Linked DNA regions of Homo sapiens. The protein of the gene in region 3 interacts with the protein of the main gene of each other region in a biochemical or structural test. Each region holds a gene or a part of one and is shown on either strand. Other genes may lie near its edges.

The links. The genes of interacting proteins can lie anywhere in the genome.
Region 1: the proteins of CTCF (region 3) and RAD51 form a complex in vitro, tested with the Homo sapiens proteins (one study listed by BioGRID).
Region 2: the proteins of CTCF (region 3) and CHD7 interact in a test that uses a peptide from one of them, tested with the Homo sapiens proteins (one study listed by BioGRID).

The regions. Positions count from the first base shown.
Region 1 is NC_000015.10:40,705,165-40,712,200, forward strand, and holds part of RAD51 (DNA repair protein RAD51 homolog 1), read left to right. Parts: intron 1-1,012; coding exon 1,013-1,130; intron 1,131-3,860; coding exon 3,861-3,952; intron 3,953-7,036.
Region 2 is NC_000008.11:60,681,731-60,688,766, forward strand, and holds part of CHD7 (chromodomain-helicase-DNA-binding protein 7), read left to right. Parts: intron 1-7,036. UniProt on the Homo sapiens protein: ATP-dependent chromatin-remodeling factor, slides nucleosomes along DNA; nucleosome sliding requires ATP. Probable transcription regulator. May be involved in the in 45S precursor rRNA production.
Region 3 is NC_000016.10:67,621,526-67,628,525, forward strand, and holds part of CTCF (transcriptional repressor CTCF), read left to right. Parts: coding exon 1-66; intron 67-5,029; coding exon 5,030-5,190; intron 5,191-6,844; coding exon 6,845-7,000.

The DNA.
Region 1 (7,036 bases), on a different chromosome or scaffold from region 3:
CTTGGAGCCCATACGTTTTGGTATATCTTCGTTTTCATTCATTGCAAAAACATTTTCTGATTTCCCTTGTCATTTCTTCTTTGACTTGTTGCTTATTTAGGAGTGTGTTGCTTTATTTTTGCATATTTGTGAATGCACTTACTTTTCAATTTTAGAATCAACCCATAGTGCTATTACAGAACACTTATCTGTAATTACAAAATAGAATGTGAATGTTCTCAGCCAGACAATATGAAAGAAAAGGTACAGCTGATAGAGGTGGGGAAGTAGCCATGGAGAGAGAAAAGATTGAAGGGCAAATGTCCTCATTTTTACAAAGTAGGAAGTTAAGGGATACAGTCTGCGGTTGATGGAGCAGGAAATGAAGGTGTACTGTATTGTCATTTTTGTCATAAATTGGGCAAAACACATATGTACGGATCTCTAATAGTTTTTTGTTTTGTTTTGTTTTGTTTTTTGAGACAGAGTCTCGCTCTGTCCCCCAGGCTGGAGTACAGTGGCGCGATCTCGGCTCACTGCAAGCTCCGCCTCCCGGGTTCACGCCTTTCTCCTGCCTCAGCCTACCAAGTAGCTGGGACTTCAGGCACCCGCCACCACGCCCGACTAATTTTTTGTATTTTTTTAGTAGAGATGGGGTTTCACCATGTTAGCCAGGATGGTCTCGATCTCCTGACGTTGTGATCCGCCTGCCTTGGCCTTCCAAAGTGCTGGGATTACAGGCGTGAGCCATCGCACCCGGCCGGATCTATAATAGTTTTTAAAACTATATTAATATATTAACTTGAATTGGCAATTTAAAAATTGATCTTCATGGAATCTCTGAATTAGATTATCCTTTTTTATGACTTTCTAAAGAGAAATCATCCTGGTAATTTTATTTGATATTTTCTCTTCCCATTGCACACCTTGTTTTACTAATATTTCTTTTTTCTTTATATATATTTTTTTGCCATCAAGATCACTGTGGTAAGGAATATTATTTTGTTGATTTAATATTTCTTATTTTTCCCAGGCTGAGGCAGCTAAATTAGTTCCAATGGGTTTCACCACTGCAACTGAATTCCACCAAAGGCGGTCAGAGATCATACAGATTACTACTGGCTCCAAAGAGCTTGACAAACTACTTCAAGGTGTAGTAATCCTTTATCCTGTGTTGTGAACTCTAGTTAGGAAAGCTTCCAGGTTATAAAACAAAACTGAAATATTTGTGTAGCATTTCCTTGTTAGATAATGATAAAGAGATAGAGGAAGGCCAGGTGCAGTGGCTTATGCCTGTAATCTCAGCACTTTGGGAGGCTGAGGTGGGCAGATCACCTGAGGCTGGGAGTTCGAGACCAGCCCAGCCAACATGGAGAAACCTATTAAAAATACAAAATTAGTTGGGCATGGTGGCACATGCCTGTAATCCCTGTAGGTGCACATGCCTACTCGGGAGGCAGAGGCAGGAGAATCACTTGAACCCGGAAGACGGAGGTTGCTGTGAGCCAAGATTGTGCCACTGCACTCCAGCCTGGGTGACGAGCAAAACTCTGTCTCAAAAACAAAGAGAGATAAAGGAAGTATCCACATTGAAGAGGTAAGACTGCTGCAAGGTAGGACCTTATTTATAAAATACTAAACTTATCTGCAAATTAAATAATTTAGTCTCCATTTAATATTGTGTTAAGAGAGTAAGCTCCTTTTGCTTAAGGAGGTAACTGTAATTATAACCTACTCTACCACAGGGTTGAAAACCTGATGACTGGTTAAAACATTCCATGTTTGAATACTACTCATTGTGTACACACTAATCTTCAGGACTTCAGGGAAAACTATAAAGCTTTTGACCTTATTATTTATTTTTCGAGACAGGGTCTCACTCTGTCACCCAGGCTGGAGTGCAGTGGCATGGTCTCAGCTCACTGCAACCTCTGCTTCCTGGGCTCAAGTGATCTTCTAGCCTCAGTCTCCCCAAGCTAGGACTATGATCATTTACCACCTGGCTAATTTTTTTTTTTTTTTTTTTTTTTTTTGAGTCGGGGCATCACTCATTATGTTGCCCAGGCTGGTCTCAAAATCCTGAGCTCAAGCCATCCTCCTGCCTCAGCCTCCCAAAGTGCTGGGATTATAGGCTTGAGCCACCTTGCCTGGCCCAATGTCAGTTTTCTTTCCCTTTTTTTTGAGACAGAGTCTCACTCTGTTACCCAGGCTGGAGTGCAGTGGCATAATCTCAGCTCACTGCAACCTCCGCCTCCTGGGTTCAAGTGATTCTCCTGCCTCAGCCTCCCAAGTAGCTGGGACTACAGGCAAGTGCCACCATGCCCAGCTAATTTTTGTATTTTTAGTAGAGATGAGGTTTCACCACGTTGGCTAGGTTGGTCTCGAACTCCTGACCTCAGATGATCTACCCGCCTCAGCCTCCCAAAGTGCTGGGCTTACAGGCGTGAGCCATCATGCCTGGCCCCCAATGTCAGTTTTCTAATATCAGTGCTATACTATCATTATGCAAGAGGTTAACACTGCAGAAGGCTAGGTGCATAGAAATTTCGTATGTTTTTTTTTGTTGTTGTTGGTTTGTTTGTTTGTTTTTTAAAGACAGAGTCTTGCTCTGTTGCCCAGGCTAGAATGCAGTGGCACAATCTCGGCTCATTGCAACCACTGACTCCCAGGTTTGAGCAGTTCTCCTGCCTCAGTCTCCTGAGTAGCTGCAATGACAGGCACCCGCCACCGTGCCTGGCTAATTTTTGTATTTTTAGTAGAGACGGGATTTCACCGTCTTGGCCAGGCTGGTCTCAAAGTCCTGACCTCCTGATCCATCCACCTCGGCCTCCCAAAGTGCTGGGATTACAGGCATGAGCCACTGTGCCCAGCTTTTTTTTTTTTTTTTTTTTTTGAGATGGGGTCTTGCTATGTCACCCCGGCTGGAGTGCAGTGGCATGATCTTGGCTCACTGCCACTTCCGCCCCCAGGTTCAAGCTATTCTTCTGCCTCCGCCTCCCGAGTAGCTGGGACTACAGGCATGCACCACCATGCCCAGCTAATTTTTGTATTTTTAGTAGAGACAGGGTTTCACCATATTGTGCCCAGCTTTTTTTTTTTTTTTTTTGAGGAGTCTCACTTTGTCACCCAGGCTGGAGTGCAGTGGCGTGATCTCGGCTTGCTGCAGCCTCCGCCTCCCAGGTTCAAGTGATTCTCCTGCTTCAGCCTGCTAGTAGCTGGGATTACAGGTGCCCATCACCAGTTCCAGCTAAGTTTTGTATTTTTAGTAGACATGAGGTTTCACCATGTTGGCCAGGCTGGTCTCGAGCTCCTGACCTCAGGTGATCAGCCCGCCTCGGCCCCCTAAAGTGCTGGGATTACAGGTGTGAGCCACCGCACCTGGCCTTATTTGCAGCTATCTATAAATCTAATTATTTCAAAATACTTTTGGTTTATTTGTTTGTTTGTTTGTTTGTTTTGAAACAGGGTCTCACTGTGTCACCCAGGCTAGAGTGCACTGGCACGATTTTGGCTCACTGCAACTTCTGCCTCCCAGGCTCAAGTGATCCTCTCACCTTAGCTCCTGAGTAGCTGGTACTACAGGCATCCGCCACCATGCCCGGCTAATTTTTGTAGAGACAGGGCTTCACCATGTTGCCCAGGCTGGTCTCGAACTCCTGAACTCAAGCAATCCACCCACCTAAGCTTCCTAAAGTGCTGGGATTACAGGCATGAGCCACCACGGCTAGCCTCAAAATACATTTGTGAAAAATTATCGCTTGTTGGAAATTGAATTTTTAACTTACATAAACATCTTTCTGATGAGCTCCAAGAACATTTCTATGACTACAGTTTCTACATGTTTGTATTATGCTAAGAGTTATTTCTTATCGCTTTTTTAGGTGGAATTGAGACTGGATCTATCACAGAAATGTTTGGAGAATTCCGAACTGGGAAGACCCAGATCTGTCATACGCTAGCTGTCACCTGCCAGGTGAGCTGTTGGGGCTATAGCTAATCAAATAAGCAAGCATTACTTCATTCCTGCTATTTGCAAGCATCTGTTAGGATGGCCATAAAAGGTACTTTCTCTGTCCTCAAGAATCTTATAGCTGTTAATAGTTAGAAGATAGACTCCTACTTCAAAATCCTTCCATGTCATAGAAACTTCCAAATCATTGATCTCCTATCAGATACGTTAATTTCAAATACTTTTGCTACCAGGCCTTTTCCTGGCTTTACTTGCTACTTTTTTTTTTTTTTTTTTTTTTTGAGGCAGAATCTCGCTGTGTCGCCCAGGCTGAAGTACAGTGGTGTGATCTCAGCTCACTGCAACCTCCTCTCTGGTTCAAGTGATTCTCCTTCATCAACCTCCCGAGTACCTGGGATTACAGGCGCCCACCAGCATGCCCGGCTAATTTTTGTGTTTTTAGTAGAGAGGGGGTTTCACCATGTTGGCCAGGCTCCTCTTGAACTCCTGATCTCAAGTGATCCACCCACCTTGGCCTCCCAAGTGCTGGAATTATAGGCGTAAGCCACTGCGCCCAGCCCTCCATCTTCTTCATTAGTCTAGATTTTATGATTCATCATTAAAGTAATTCTCTTGCAGATAGCCTCAGTTTACATACCCACTTGAAGAGATGCCAACCTTAGATGAAACTCATCTATCTTCTCAGTGTCTGTACCCAAATAGCTGATTATACTGGAGAAAAATCGTATCATACAGCTGACTGACTTCACTTTAAATTCAAGATGACAGGCCAGGCACGGTGGCTCACGCCTGTAATCCCAGTACTTTGGGAGGCCGAGGCGGGTGGATCACTTGAGATCAAGAGTTTGGCTGGGCGCGGTGACTCACGCCTGTAATCCCAGCACTTTGGGAGGCCGAGGTGGGCGGATCACAAGGTCAGGAGATTGAGACCATCCTGGCTAACACAGTGAAACCCCATCTCTACTAAAAATACAAAAAATTAGTTGGGCGTGGTGGCGGGTGCCTGTAGTCCCAGCTACTTGGGAGGCTGAGGCAGGAGAATGGCGTGAACCCGGGAGGCACAGCTTGCAGTGAGCCGAGATTGCGCCACTGCACTCCAGCCTGGGCGACAGAGCGAGACTCTGTCTCAAAAAAAAAAAAAAAAAAAAAAAAAAAAAGAAGAAGAAAAAAAAAAGATCAGGAGTTCAAGACCAGCCTGGCCAACATGGTGAAACCCTGTCTCTACTAAAAATACAAAAATTAGCTGGGCGTGTTGGCACGTGCCTGTAATCCCAGTTACTTGGGAGACTGAGGCAGGAGAATCGCTTGAACCCGGGGGGCAGAGGTTGCAGGGAGCTGAGATCGCACCATTGCATTCCAGCCTGGTCAAAGAAGCGAGACTCTGTCTCAAAAAAAAAAAAAAAAAAAAAAAGAATGAAAAAAGGAAAAAAATTCAAGATGACAAAACTTTAGATTAACATTCAAAACTTCTTGGCAGTCTACTTTCTCCATTTAGGTGTACTTTCCCACTGAGTTAGACAGGCATCTCATATCTCATACTTCGTCTTCTGTTATCAGAACTTTATGCTCCTCTTCAACTCTCATTCTTAGCCAAAAACCTAACCTGCTCTTTGCATCAAATCTACATTTGTGCCCATCTTTTCTTATCTCAGGTTACAATTGAGAAAGTGTCCCTTTTCTTCTCAAAGGCCCATTCTATCAATATGATTTGGTTACCATCTCCTGCCACCTTCTCAAGGACTCTACTCCTTCCATTTTCTCTTGTACCTCTCTATGAGATTATCCTCATCAGTATACAAATATGTCTAGTGTCTCCTCCATTAGGAAAAAACCTTCCCTGGACCCCTTCAGTTTCTTTTTCCTTTACTTATGCTCCTATTGGTGGGAAGATTTGGAAATAGACACAGTAGGTTAAATAATTGCCCAATACATTGTATTTAAGTAGCAAATACTGGACTCAAACCAGACTTCAGAGATGATGTTCTTAAAACTTCATAAGAGGCCAGCATGGTGTTTCATGCCTGTAATCCCAGTACTTTGGGAAGCCAAAGTGGGAGGATTGCTTGAGACCAGGAATTTGAGACCAGCCTGGGCAACATAGTGAGACCCTGTTTCTGAGATGCCATTTCTAAAAACAAACAAACAAAAACAGACAATTAAAAATATTAGCCCAGCATGATGATGTGTACCTGTGGTCCTAGCTACTCAGGAGGCTGAGGTGGTAGAATCTCTTGAGCCCAAGAGGTCGAGGCTCCAGTGACTGGGATCGTGCCACTGCATGTTTTCTGCTGTATTGCTAGTGCCTAAGGCAGTGTTTGGCTCTCAGTAAACAATAAATGCTTGAATGAGTGGAGATAATAGATGTCCAAAAACATGCCTGATATATAAAATGAATGTCACAGAGGAAATGGGTTAGCTGTTTAAGGAATAGAAAGGGGTAATTTCACCCTAGAGTGATCATGGAATACTTTATGGAGAAAAGATTTTGGACCAGACTTCTGAAGAATGCTAAATTTGGGAAGGAAGGAAATTAAAAGCATTTAACTGTATAGAATGGGATGAACAGAGGATGGGAAGGCATAAGTTAGAAGGAAAAGACAATAAATAAGCAAGGTCATTTAACTGGTTTAGAGTTTGTGTAGAAAAGTTGTAGGAGATGACCCTTAAAAAGATACATCAAACTGGGCATGATAGCTCACACCTGTAATCCCAGCACTTTGGGAGGCCACGGTGGGTGGATCGCTTGAGCTCAGGAGTTTGAGACCAGCCTGGGCAACATGGCAAGACCCTATCTCTACAAATAATATAAAAATTAGCCAGACGTGGGCTGTGCCTGTAGTGGCAGCTACTTGGGAGGTGGAGGCGGGAGAATCGCTTGAGCCCAGGAGGCCAAGGTTGCCATGAGCCAAGATTGTACCACTGCTCTCCAGCCTGGGCAACAGAGCAAGATTTTGTCTCCATCTCAAAAAAAAAAAAAAAATTAAGATCCTATTTCAGAAGGTTAAGAAGTTTAAACTTGATTTTATGAAGAGTAAGCATTAGCTGGTCAGGAAACTAAGATAGTGACAATAAAGAGAAGTAGGGAAA
Region 2 (7,036 bases), on a different chromosome or scaffold from region 3:
ATGCTGGTACTCAAGAATTGGGATTGTTTTCTAGCACTGTGGGTTTTTTTCTCTTTATATTTTCTAATTTTTTCTCCTGTTCGAGTCACTAAATTGAACCATGATGAATTGTATCCTGGGTCTATGCTTTCGCGATTGAAATGAGTTTTCAGATAAGAAATGAATTATAATTTTAAAAGACTGGTATATGAATTTTAAATTATTATATTCATTTAATCAATGGCCTTATTTTTAAATTAGTTTTTTTAAAAAGTTACTTTCTTTTATATGTCTTAACATGGAAGGCACAATACAGGAATGGTAGAGTGGTTGTACCGGTGATGTTTAAAAACCCAAATATTATTTTCCTCTTTCAAGGAAAGAAATAACTTTTTTTCCCAAGTTGAAAATATGGAAGTCAAATTTATAACAACGTATTCAGTAACTTAGTTTTAAAATAGTACTTTTATAGATTCACCAGTATTTGGTCTAGTTTTTAATCAGTTCAACTTACAGGAACATTTCCTAAACTTTTTTCATAATGAGCCTTCTTTCTAGGTTAGCCTTACTTTTATTGAGTTAAAATGAATACCATGAAGAGTACCTTTATAATACAGTAACATCAAGGAAATGTTACAACCGTTTTTCATACAGATGCGAAGTCAATAATATGTTATAGTTTTTAAGCAGTTAGGTCAAAATAACAGAAATATTTTGTTATGAGAAAATACACTGTAAATGCTTCTGTGTGCCTGCTGTGTAACCCATAAAAGCCATGTAAGTGCCAAGTTAGTGTAGTTCTTTCAAACCTAAGATTACAGCATTGTATTCCATATGCTTGAAAAAGTTTGCTTGCCACACAGTCACCATGCCTTTAGTTAACTTTGATTCAGCAAACCTTGGCAAGCCTTCCATGGTTAAAACAATAAAAGGCAGTACTTTCCTTTAGGGAGTGTACCATCTAATAGAGAGCAGTTCTATAGGTAAGCAAATATTCACATTTGACTTTTAAGATAAACTTATAAGTAATAGTTATCTTTCATCTTTCATTAACTAAATACAACCTTTTGGGTTTGATAGCAGACACCATGGCCATCTTAGAAACATCGAATATAAATGTGGCATTGCAAGAATAAAAATGTTTAGTCAGGTCTGAGCAAATGGCTCTTAAAACTTCAACTTTGTAAGACAGTGATTCTTTTTCAGTAAATGATTTCTACATGTAAAAAGTAAGCACATAGTCACATAGCTAAAATCACCAAAAAGGATGGAGAAGGAACATCTTAGGTGATATTAAGATGATGTCAGCAATATATTGGCTCTGTGGGACCCTTTCAATTGTCTTGTTCACTCATGTGGGCATATTTGTGTATCTTAAAAAAATCTGTTCTTTTCATGCGATTGGAAATTCAGAATTTAGCATTTTTCTAGACAGGTTTCCAAAACCATTATGGTTTCATTAGTTCAGGAGATACTATTTTCCCCTTTCTCTATAAAACTTTATTATTTAGTCTTTAAAAAAATTGTTGACATTCAAAGGTGACTAATGTTAAAATATAAAAGAAATTGAGATCAATAATCGCTTGGTTTTTCTACAAAAAATACAAAGATGGAATGATTTATTTCAATTTGGGTATCACTCAGGTTGCAGTGATGGCAGAGGTCCATAGCTGATTATGGTGGTTGTTAAGAGCTAGGAAGGTAATTTAAAACATCATGACTATGTGTCCATATTTTACTTTTGTCAATAGATTAAAAATTGTAAATGAAATCACATCTGCATGATAAAAAGAAGAAATAGAAACAGGAAGTTGTAATGATGTTGTCAAATAAAAATTCATTTTATCCTTATTAGAGAATGATTGGATATTTAGAGTGTGAGGACCTTAGAGAGCTAGTTGAACTTTCTCATTTTACAGATTAAGAAACTAAAGTCCAGAGAGATTAATTAAATGAACTGCCTCTGACTGGCCACCCACTGTTGCAGAGCTTATCTCAGTTACAGTTGTGTTCCTGGTGCCTAGCATCGTGCCAGTGCAGGAGGGGTGCTGGTCTTGTCTTTGTTGGCTCTGGAAGAGTACAGCTCTTGCTCATGTTCTGACTCAAAGGTACCTTTAGGCTTTAGAATCCTACAGCATAGGACAACATAACTCTTAAAGATGTTCCTAAACCAACAATAATTTGCTTCTGTTTTTGGAGGTTTTTTTTTTTTAACTATGATTATCCATTTAGGAAAAATGCAGAGATAATTATTTCAAGATTTGACAACTGTTTTCACTTTAGATGCATGTATTGATCACCATAGCTAGATTCCTGTTGCATTTTAACTAATGTTAGGTGACTGACTGCAAACATGATTGTTTTTTCAGAGAAGGATTTTTTTGGGGTTTCTGTTCTGCTTTTACTTTGAAAATTAGAAATGTCTTTTTAAAAGTAAAAAATAACGTAGGTATTTATGAAGAAACTTAACTTGTCAGTAAAGGCTGGTTCACTCTCAGGCTTGTTTACCTATGCTAATGTGGAATCTAAGGCACTTTTTAAAGTGACCCTTTGAGCCTTGCTTCCTCTGTGCATGTCAGGATTGGCTTTCACGGCCACAGAATCTGGACTGTGATTAGTCTTCCTGTTTCATCTGTGGTTTTGCTCATTGATTCGGCTGTTTGTTGGGTACCTGCTACCTGAAAGATGCAATGCTATGAATTGTCAATATAGTGATGACATGAGAAGACATGGTAAACTCACACAAAAACTAGAGCTACTGTAAGGTCATAGGTGTGATGCAGTCGGTGCCAGGAGGAGTGAGAGCTTAGGACTTGGGGATTCCGTCAGTTGGGTGGGGTATTACCCCTTAGGAAGTGGCTTTAGCATTACCATCTGAATGATGGTAGAAGAAGGGGTGAGGGCACTTCAGGCAGTGCCCCTCACCTGCAGGGAGGCTGTGTGTTTGAGGCATTCAACTGCAAGATGAGACTCGAGGCAGGCAGTATCCAACTTGGTCAGGGCTTTCAGGATATCAAATTTGGGATTTTTGAAAAAAGCAGTAGGAACCACTGATGAGTGTTAAGCAGCCTTTGACACGAGCAGAGTAGTGTTTTGAAGAAGATTGAATTGGTGGGTGCAGAGAGGACAATAGGTTGTAGACAATATCCTGCCTGCTTTTGTTGTGGTCTGTGGGATGGGGAAATCACAATGATTTGGACTAGATTGGTGGTGGCCATGGGGATGGAGAGAAATGGACAGATTTGAGAGATATTTAACAGTTTCAACGAATAGGACTTGGGGATAGATGCGCTCTCAAGAGGGAGATCTCAGGGCATATAGGTTTCTAGCATGTTCCCTGCTTGGCTGGTTGGCTACTGATCCTATTCACAGAGGCAAGAATCAGATCTGCTGAAGATTTGAGAAGGAAGCTCATGAGTTCTTGTAGCATATGACTGAGGTAGCTGATAATGGACCATGATGACATTGTTTTATCCTTTGCATTGCTAGTGGCATTCCAGAACTTTAAAAAAAGTAATCTGCTAGCTTTAACCAAAAGATATTGGACGTGGGGAGTTCATCAAGGAATGTGAATGGGTTCAGTGAAATGGGAGAGGGGAGGGAAGCCTTACTTGCTGAATACATAGCACTTTGCTTGTTACTTGCCTGATACATAGCACTTTGTAGGAGTTTGCTCATTCCAGGTTGAGCGTAGAATCCTGTGGTAACCAGACCTTGGCACATTTTGTTCTTCTGTATGTCCCCTTACGGAGGCTGCTTTCTGTTGCTAGTCACATATTAGGGCAAGGTCTTTGGGTTCCCGGCACGTGGGTGGCAGGTCCCCCATGTTCTCGGGGCTGCAGTCTCCCTCGGAGAGAGTTGTATTTTAGAAGTTGGTTGTAGTCATACAGAAGCAAGGAAGGAGTGAATACATTATTTAAATAAATGTGGAGAAGAATACCAATGTTTATCAGAATACTTACCTGGTTTTTAGTGGAGTATGTATAAACCAGTTTAATAAGTAAATTACCTTCAAAGTTACTTTGTTCAGTTATTATGAAAAGTAGATTGTAAAGCATGGTTGCCGGTGGCAGATGAGCGATGCTGTTACACCCAGAAAAGCTTCTGAATTGCTGACTTTAATATTATATAAGAAAAATTATGAAAATACAGGACAGTAATTTTGGAGCTTTTTTAGGGAAGTGTTTGTATTTTTGTGTTTGCCAGCTAATATGGGTGATTGCCAGCCAATATGGGTGATAGAACTTTTTGTTATAGATCAAATTTTGTTCTTGTGTGCATAAAGATAACCTTCCTGGGACTCAGTGTCTTTAATTAGGGGTCTGTTTCAAAGATACTTTTATTGTCATTGTGTGTTCCTCATGGGCCTTTCTGGTGGCCATTGTGACTCAGTCAAGTCTTCTGGGTTCCTTCCTGTCTTGTGTTGTTTGTAGGGACATGCTTCATGTGAAAGTTTACCTTCACCTGCAATAGTTTTGAGTGATTATTTGAATAAGCTTAAATTCAGGAGAAGTAATGTTTCCACGTGTGGAATGGCAGGAAAACTTGGTGCACTAACTTCAGCTTCAGATGGGCTTGTGCCAACTACTCTGTGGCAATTTATATCTAATACTATTTCTTCAACTTGCCAGTTTTTCTTAAAAAAAAAAAAAAAAAACTCTTTAAAATACATTCTGTCATTAGGTCCAGCCAGCAGTGTATTCTTAGGGTGTAAGAGATCATTTCTAAGAGGTGTAGACATCGAATGGAAAGGCGCATGCAGGCCCCTGTGGATGTGGCTTTAATGGAAGAATAGAGGGGATGCTTCTTTGGGGCCTGCCTTCTCTCCTGGCATCTGCAGTGGCTGAGGAGGCAGCAGAGGTCATGTGGTGGATTTGAGTTTTCCACCATGTATTTCATCAGGATGAGGTTGGGCAAATAGCCATCTGCTGCTGAGCAGGGACCGCGTGCGACCTGGGTTTCCACACCCACCCTTTGTGTAGGGAAAGGTGTGCAATTAGACACATGTGTTAGGTTGGACACATCACCTCCTTTCCCTAGTATCCTCAGTGTAAAACAGTCAGATTTCTATACCATATTTGCAGTATGTCTAAAAAAGGGTACATGGCACCTTACTAGTTAATTTTCTTTCTAGTTCTGCAGCAAGTTTGGGGAACTACTTTAACTTTTTAGAGGCCACTGTGTCCTCTTTTCATCATTTTGAAAGAAACCACAAACATTTTATTTGTTATCCATTTTTGTTTTGTTTCGTTTTCGAGATGGGGTCTCACAATACTGTCCAGGCTGGATTCTAATTCCTGAGCTCAAAGGCTTTTCCTGCCTCAGCCTCCCAAGTAGCTGGGATTACTGGCATGCACCACTGTGCCCTGTTATATCAACATTTTAGAAATCTGTCTGTTGATATTTAAAACATAATTAGCAAATGTGCATATTATTTCAACACACCTAAAAACTATTAAACATCTTTAACATAATACTAAGCAGTCATAGTGAGAAGTCCCTCGAAGAATTATAAGCATGCCTTTAGTTTCCAAGGCAGTGCTTGCTAGCATACTAAGTGAATAATAAAATCAGTTTGAGCACAGGAATATGATAAAAAAAAAATACCCCAGTTGGTGAAGTATTTTGAAGTGTATGAGCCTAGCAATTATTTATGGTTAGAACTGGCACTATATTGAAATTGTTGAGCCCATATCCTTAAATAATTTTTTAAAAGTCTCTGTTAAAGTGTTTTATGTTCTTGTATACTTGGCCTTGTTTGTGCTTGAAATTTTGCTTTCATTAATCTCAAGTGTACCGATCTTGCAAGAAAAATCATACATATTCATCTTGAGAATTTCAAAATCTTGATTAACAGTGTACCCCACCCTGAAGTATATGTTGGGCCAATCAAGTAAAATAGTGCAGAAATAATAAAACAATATTAAAAATAACAGTAATAACCATAATGACCGGCTGTTATTTCCAGTTGGGTAGTTACTCAGCTGAGTGTTGTCATGGATCATTTCATTTCCTCATCAGAGCAACTCTAGGTAATAGGTAGAACTATTATCCCCATTTTACAGATGAGGAGACTAAAAGGGATGAGAAGTTAAATTACCCAGGGCCATACATTTCTAGCACGTGGTGGAGGAGGAATTTGAATCCAGATGAGCTAGACTCCACAATCTGTGTACATAAGCATGGTGCTGCTGTTGCCACGTAGACCAGCTCTGGAGCTTGCATTGTTGCCGTCTTAATAGACAAAGGTGTGTTAAAAATACCCATGCCATGCTGTGATGCTACCTATTGCTGTGTCTTACCAGCCCAGGCTATTTTTTTCTGTACTTCCTCTGTTGGTGCCTGCTGTAGTTGTGGGGCCATATGTCATGGGATGTCTTCGTACCTAAAACGACCAGGTCCTTGCCTTTCACACTTAAGGCCCTTCTGCTCACATGGAGATGAGGAGAAGAGTTGTTCTTGTGGAGGTTGCCTTCTGAGGCGGCTGAGAATTTGAGTTTTGATGTCGGACAGATACGGGTGTGAATCATAAAAATGGACATAATACATTCTCCTAACTGCCCAGGGTTATGGTGAAGGTTAAGTGAGGCACTCCAGCTAACATACTTGGTATAGCATATGGCATATTCATTGAGTGGTTACTATTTTTATTAGTTCAGTTTAATCATGGAACTTATCAAATCATATGTATTGCTTTTACTTTTGTTTTAAAAAGTCCCTCAAACCATAATCCTACAGATGACTGGACAAGAATGAGTGGCCTAAAATGGTGACTGGCTACACAATTTTCATTTTTCTTCAGGAGAAGACATTTGAAAATAACATCTTTATGTCCTTTGTCCATCAGTGCAACCAGATGTTATTTGCCTAATTCTCTTGTTGATTATATAGAGTTGATTCAGATATCCCAGGTACTAAAAGTGACAGGTTTGAGGGAGTGCTTATCTCTTGTCCTGAAGATGTTCATCTCCTACCAGAGTTATGGCTGTCCTTCTAGTGAAACAGTCATTTCTTCTTTGTCCCAAATCTGCAATTCTCCAAACATGGTGGGTGATGT
Region 3 (7,000 bases):
CAGAAAATGTGGCCAAATTTCACTGTCCCCACTGTGACACAGTCATAGCCCGAAAAAGTGATTTGGGTAAGTAGATTAACTAGTGAGAAGTGAAAAAAATATTTTGAAGGATTTATATTTCGAAATATGGGGATCAAAAATAACTTCACCTTCTGACTCTCATAACATTTTATGTATAGGAATGGCCTGTCACTTAGTTTAGTAAAAGCCATTGCTTAGCTGCTTTTTTTTTTTTTTTTTTTCTATTTCTTCCTTTTCTTACTGTAGTCAGGCCACAAGATTCTGTCCTGAGTAAAACTCATCTATAAATTAATGGGAGCTGTGATGGGAGGAGACAGAGTACACCTTTAATTAGTAGCCTTCCTTCCCCAAATAGGAAAGTAACATAGTGTGATTCAAACTCAGGTCATTCTATTGTATTTTTTTGAGAACGTCTGTACTTTCTCTAGGTAATGGGACTGTTTTATTGGTTTAGTGGTAACTGTATTTCTGTGCATAGTTAAACTAGAGTTTACATGCAGCCGGAGTTTATTAATAATATTTAGTGTAGGCCGGGCGCGGCAGCTCACACCTGTAATCCCAGCACTTTGGGAGGCCAACGCGGGTGGATCACGAGGTCAGGCGATCGAGACCATTCTGGCTAACATGGTGAAACCCTGTCTCTACTAAAAATACAAAAAATTAACTGGGCATGGTGGTGGGCGCCTGTAGTCCCAGCTACTCGGGAGGCTGAGGCAGGAGAATGGCGTGAACCTGGGAGGTGGAGCTTGCAGTGAGCAGAGATCACGCCACCGCACTCCAGCCTGGGTGACAGAGCGCGACTCTGTCTCAAAAAAAAAAAAGGTAACGAGTAAAAAGTGAGAGCCATCCTCTCCCTTACCTCATATCTACTCCCAATAATTAGCTCTCTTTAAGTTTAGTGGGATATCACCTCAGTTGATACAACTTGTAGTACCGTAAATACATAAATTCATGATCCCAAATGTAGCTGGGCCCTCACTGCTCCTAGCTGTTCCAGCTGTTTGTTCTTGTCAGGTGTGCTCCAGTTCTTTATGAGTGAGCGAATTCATTCCACAGTGTTTGGTGCTTATATAGAGTTGGGCAACCTACTCTTACTTTTTTTTTTTTTTTTTTTGAGATGGAGTTTTCCTCTCGTCACCCAGGCTGGAGTATGATGGCATGAACTCAGCTCACTGCCACCTGTGCCTCCCAGGTTCAAGTGATTCTCCTGCCTCAGCCTCCTGAGTAGCTGAGATTATAGGCGCATACCACCATGCCCGGCTAAATTTTTTTTTTTTTTTTTTTTTGTATTTTTTAGTAGAGATGGGGTTTCACCATGTTGGCCAGGCTGGTCTTGAACTCCTGACCTCAGGTGATCTGCCTACCTCGGCCTCCCAAAGTGCTGGGATTACAGACATGAGCCACCGCGCCCAGCCCTCACTTGCTTTTTTTTGTGACAAAGTTTTGCACTTGTCACCCAGGCCAGAGTGCAGTGGCCTGATCTCTGTTCACTGCAACCTCCGCCTCCTGGGTTCAAGCTCTTCTCCTGCCTCAGCCTCCCAAGTGGCTGGGACTACAGGTGCCCGCCCATGGCTAATTTTTGTATTTTTAGTAGAGACAGGGTTTCACCATGTTGGCCAGGCTGCTCTCGAACTCCTGACCTCAAGTGATCTGCCCTCATTGGCCTCCCAAAGTGTTGGGATTACAGGCGAGAGCTGCTACACCAGATCCCCTACTCCTATTTTCTTATAACCTCTAATTTTCCTTCTTTTTTCTCTCCCCTCTTGGTCTCAGTAAATGACTTCTCTTCCTACTTAAAAAATAAAGACAAAGGGCCAGGCGCAGTGGCTCACGCCTGTAATCCCAGCACTTTGGGAGGCCAAGGTGGGTGGATCATTTGAGCTTAGGAGTTCCGGAGCAGCCTGGGCAACATGGCAAAACTCCATCTCTACCAAAAATACAAAACGGTTGTGGTGAGGTGCACCCTTGGTTCCAGCTACTCAGGAGGCTGTGGTGGGAGGATCACTTGAGCTTAAGAGGTAGAGGTTGCAACGAGCCGAGATCGTGCCACTGCACTCCAGCTTGGGTGACAGAGAGACCCCATCTCAAAAAAAAAAAAGAATCTTAGCCAGACACAGTGGCTCACACCTGTAGTTTCAGCTATTCAGGAGGATGGGCCAGGAGTTCTAGACCAACCTGTGTGATATAGCAAGACCCCGTCTCTTAAAATAAATAAAAATATAGCCGGGCACGGTGGCTCACGCCTCTAATCCCAGCACTTTGGGAGGCTGAGATGGGCGGATCACAAGGTCAGGAGATGAAGACCATCCTGGCTAACACAGTGAAACCCCATCTCTACTAAAAATACAAAAATTAGCCGGGTGTGGTGGCACATGCCTGTAGTCCCAGGTACTTGGGAGGCTGAGGCAGGAGAATTGCTTCAATCCGGGAGGGGGAGGTTGCAGTGAGCGGAGATCGCGCCACGGCACTCCAGCCTGGGCAAGAGAGTGAGACACTGTCTCAAAAAAAAAAAAAAAAATTATATATGTGTGTGTGTGTGTGTGTGTGTGTGTGTGTGTGTGTGTGTGTGTATGTGTGTGTATATATATGTGTGTGTGTGTATATATGTGTGTATATATATATGTATTCATATATATATGTATTTTTATATATATGTATGTCTTCACCCTCTAGGTTTAACTCTTCTCTCCTTCCCAGCCAGCCTTTATGAAGAGTTAACATCCCTCACAGTCTTCTCCCCCTCATCTTTCCCTCTTGTCTGGCTTATTCCCCATCACTCTGGTATAATGACTGTTGCTTAAGGTCATGAATGACCCCACTCTCTGAATGTAGTGAAGACTCCTTTCCACTCTTCTTCCTAAGAGATGACTTGATCTGTTAGCAGTGTTCTTCATCGTTGACAGTACCCTCTTCCTTTGAAACACTTTCTTCCCTTGGCCTCTGTGACACTAAATCCTGTTGGTTTTCTTCTTCCTCTTACTTCTTTAAACTTTCTCTTATTTTAACCTTTTTTTCTCTCACTGGCCTTAACTCCAAGGTTTTTGTTTTTGTTTTTGTTTTTTACTGGAGACTGTCTTGCTCTGTTGCCCAGGCTGGAGTTCGGTGGCTCAGTCTTGGCTCACTGCAGCATCGACCAGGCTCAAGGAATCCTCCCACCTCAGCCTCCCTGGTAGCTAGGACCACAGGCACATGCCACGATGACCAGCTAATTTTTTTTTTTAGCTTTTGGTAGAGACAGGGTTTCACTATGTTGCCCAGGCTGGTCTCGTACTCCTGGACTCAAGCAATCCACCCACCTCAGCCTCCCAATATGCTAGGATTACAGGTGTGAGCCACCACACCTGGCCCAACTCTGAGACTTCTTTGTGTGTATGTGTGCTTGTGTGCTTTGTGTGAGAGACGGAGTTTCACTCTGTCACCCAGGCTGGAGTAGAGTGGCGCGATCTCGGCTCACTGCAACCACCACTTCCCTGGTTTAAATGATTCTCCTTCCTCATTTTCCCGAGTAGCTGGGACCACAGGTGTACGCCACCATGCCTAGCTAATTTTTGTATTTTTCAGTAGAGACGGGTTTCACTATATGTTGGCCAGGCCAGGTCTCAAACTCCTGACCTCAGGTGATCCACCCACCTTTGCCTCCTAAAGTGCTGGGATTCTTTTTGAGATGGAGTCTTTGTCGCCCAGGCTAGAGTACAGTGCAGTAGCACAATCTTGGCTCACTGCAACCTCTGCCCCCCAGGTTCAAGCCATTTTCTTGCCTCAGCCTCCCGAGTAGCTGGGATTACAGGTTTACAGGCATACACCACCACGCCCAGCTAATTTTTGTACTTTTTAGTAGAGACAGAGTTTTGCCATGTTGGCCAGGCTGGTCTTGAACTCGTCACCTCAGGTGATCCACCTGCCATGGCCTCCCAAAGTGCTAGGATTACAGGCGTGAGCCACTGTGCCTGCCAACTCTTAGACTTCTCAAAGCATGACCCATTCTTTTTATTTTAATTCTACTTTTTGCCTTGGTGATCTTATCAGCTCCCATGGGCTCAAATTCTAACAACTCTTTGTGGCATTGGTGGTACAGTGATAAGCATAGCTGCTTTCAAATCCTAACAACTTGTACATTTATATTCCTACTCCAGATCTTTCTTTTGAGTTAGCCTTATATAACTGTGTATCCCTTGCCATCCCACCCCTGCTTTTATATCTCTGGCATTTCAAATTCAGCATGTCTAAAACTGAAGGTCTAAAACTTCTCTGTCCCCTATGCCCCCCCACCCCCCGACCCTGAAAATAACACATACAACTTGGTCTTAAGCCCTCTTCCACTATTCTTGTCTCAATAAATGACCCCAACAGCTACCTGGTTTTCCAGGCCTGATACCTACTTTATTCTTCACTCTCTACAGTCACTAAATCCTGTTGATTCAACTGCTTCCATCTCTCATCAGTTCTTCCCCTTCCATCCACACCCATTGTCATCACCCTTGTCCCAGCCACCATCTTCTCCCACCTATCCTGTTTGAACAATCTTAATTGTTCTCCCTGCACCTGTTACTCTGCCTTTTCATTCATTTTCTGTATAGCACCCAGAGTAATACTTAAGAATCAGGAGAAATGGGCTGGGCGCAGTGGCTCACACCTATAATTCCAGCATTTTGGGAGGCCGAGGCGGGCAGATCACGAGGTCAGGAGATTGAGACCATCCTGGCTAACATGATGAAACCCTGTCTCTACTAAAAATACAAAAATAAAAAATAAAAAAATTAGCCGGGCATGGTGGCGGGCGCCTGTAGTCCCAGCTACTCAGGAGGCTGAGGCGGGAGAATGGCATGAACCTGGGAAGTGGAGCTTGCAGTGAGCTGAGATTGCGCCACTGCACTCCAGCCTGGGTGACAGAGCAAGACTCCGTCTCAAAAAAAAAAAAAAAAAAAAAGAATCGAGAAATGTATTAGTAACTTGTTAAAATGCTTGTTTGTGTTTTCACATTACCCTGGGCTTTTTACTGTGCTTTCAGGTGTCCACTTGCGAAAGCAGCATTCCTATATTGAGCAAGGCAAGAAATGCCGTTACTGTGATGCTGTGTTTCATGAGCGCTATGCCCTCATCCAGCATCAGAAGTCACACAAGAATGAGAAGCGCTTTAAGTGTGACCAGTGTGATTACGCTTGTAGACAGGTAGGAACCTTCATTGAAAGTTGTTGGTGCTTTCTCGGTGTCTGGTGTTATCAGAGGGCATTTACATATCTAGTACAGTGGCTGTTTTTAAAGATAGTATTTTCAAACTGTGGATTATGAGGAATGTCACCAAAATCAAAGGTCATGCTCCTTGTCAATTGTGTCATCCCGGTGTCCAGATGATGTTTTATTCAGTCACAGCTTACCTCTTCCTTAAGCAGACATCTTTCTGAAAACTGTGGAAAGTAAGTCCAGGACTTGAGAGAGGGGAAGAATCTCATGCGGGGACATGACTGTTGGGAGGGAGCCAAAGAAGGAGCTCAGCAGGAATAAGCAGCTCTATCTGTGCTACAATTATGGAAGCAGTTGTGCACCACACTAAAAATACCTTTATCAAGCCGGGTGCAGTGGCTCACACCTGTAATCCTAGCACTTTGGGAGGCCGAGATAGGCAACAGAGAGAGACCCCATCTCTACAAAAAGAAAAAATTAGGGCCGGGCGCGGTGGCTCGAGCGCCTGTAATCCCAGCACTTTGGGAGGCTGAGGTGGGCGGATCACTTGAGGTCAGGAGCTTGAGAGCAGCCTGGCCAACACGGTGAAACCCCGCCTCTACTAAAAATACAAAAATTAGCCGGGCATGGTGATAGACGCCTGTAATCCCAGCTACTCTGGAAGCTGAGGCAGGAGAATCGCTTGAACCTGGGGCGGAGGTTGCATTGAGCCGCGATTGCGCCACTGCGCTCCAGCCTGGGTGGCAGAGCGAGACTCTGTCTCCAAAAGAAAAAGAAAAAATTAGCTGGGGCCAGGCACGGTGACTCACACCTGTAATCCCAGCACTTTGGGAAGCCAAGGCAGGCAGATCATTTGAGGTTGGGAGTTCAAGACCAGCCTGGCCAACCTGGTGAAATCCCATCTCTACTAAAAAAAAAAAACAAAAAAACACGAAGGTCGGCCGGGCGCGGTGGCTCACGCCTGTAATCCCAGCACTTTGGGAGGCCGAGGCAGGTGGATCACAAGGTCAGGAGATCAAGACCATCCTAGCTAACACAGTGAAACCCCGTCTGTACAAAAAATCAGCTGGGCGTGGTGGTGGGTGCCTGTAGTCCCAGCTACTCCGGAGGCTGAGGCAGGTGAATGGCATGAACCCAGTGAGCCGAGATTGCGCCACTGCACTCCAGCCTGGGCGACAGAGTGAGACTCCATCTCAAAAAAAAAAAAAAAAAAAAAAGTCAGCTGGGTGTGGTGGCAGGCACCTGTAATCGCAGCTACTCAAGAGGCTGAGGCAGGAGAATTGCTTGAATCCGGGAGGTGGAGGTTGCAGCGAGCCAAGATCGCGCCACTGCACTCCATCCTGGGCGATAGAGCGAGACTCCGTCTCAAAAAAAAAACAAAAAAAATTAGCCAGGCATGGTGGCTCATACCTATGGTCCCATTTTGAAGCTGCAGTAAGCCATGATCACACCACTGCTCTCCAGACTTTGCAACAGAGCAAGACCCTGTCTCTAAATATATAGCTTTATCATCTCAACAAGCCGTGTGGAGTCTAGACCTAGCTTGGGTGAGAAATACCTGTTGGCCACATGCATGCAGGTGGCAGCTGGGGCAGTAGCCCCATGAGCAGGCTCTGAGGCCTTTCCCCCTATGCCGTTTCAGGAGAGGCACATGATCATGCACAAGCGCACCCACACCGGGGAGAAGCCTTACGCCTGCAGCCACTGCGATAAGACCTTCCGCCAGAAGCAGCTTCTCGACATGCACTTCAAGCGCTATCACGACCCCAACTTCGTCCCTGCGGCTTTTGTCTGTTCT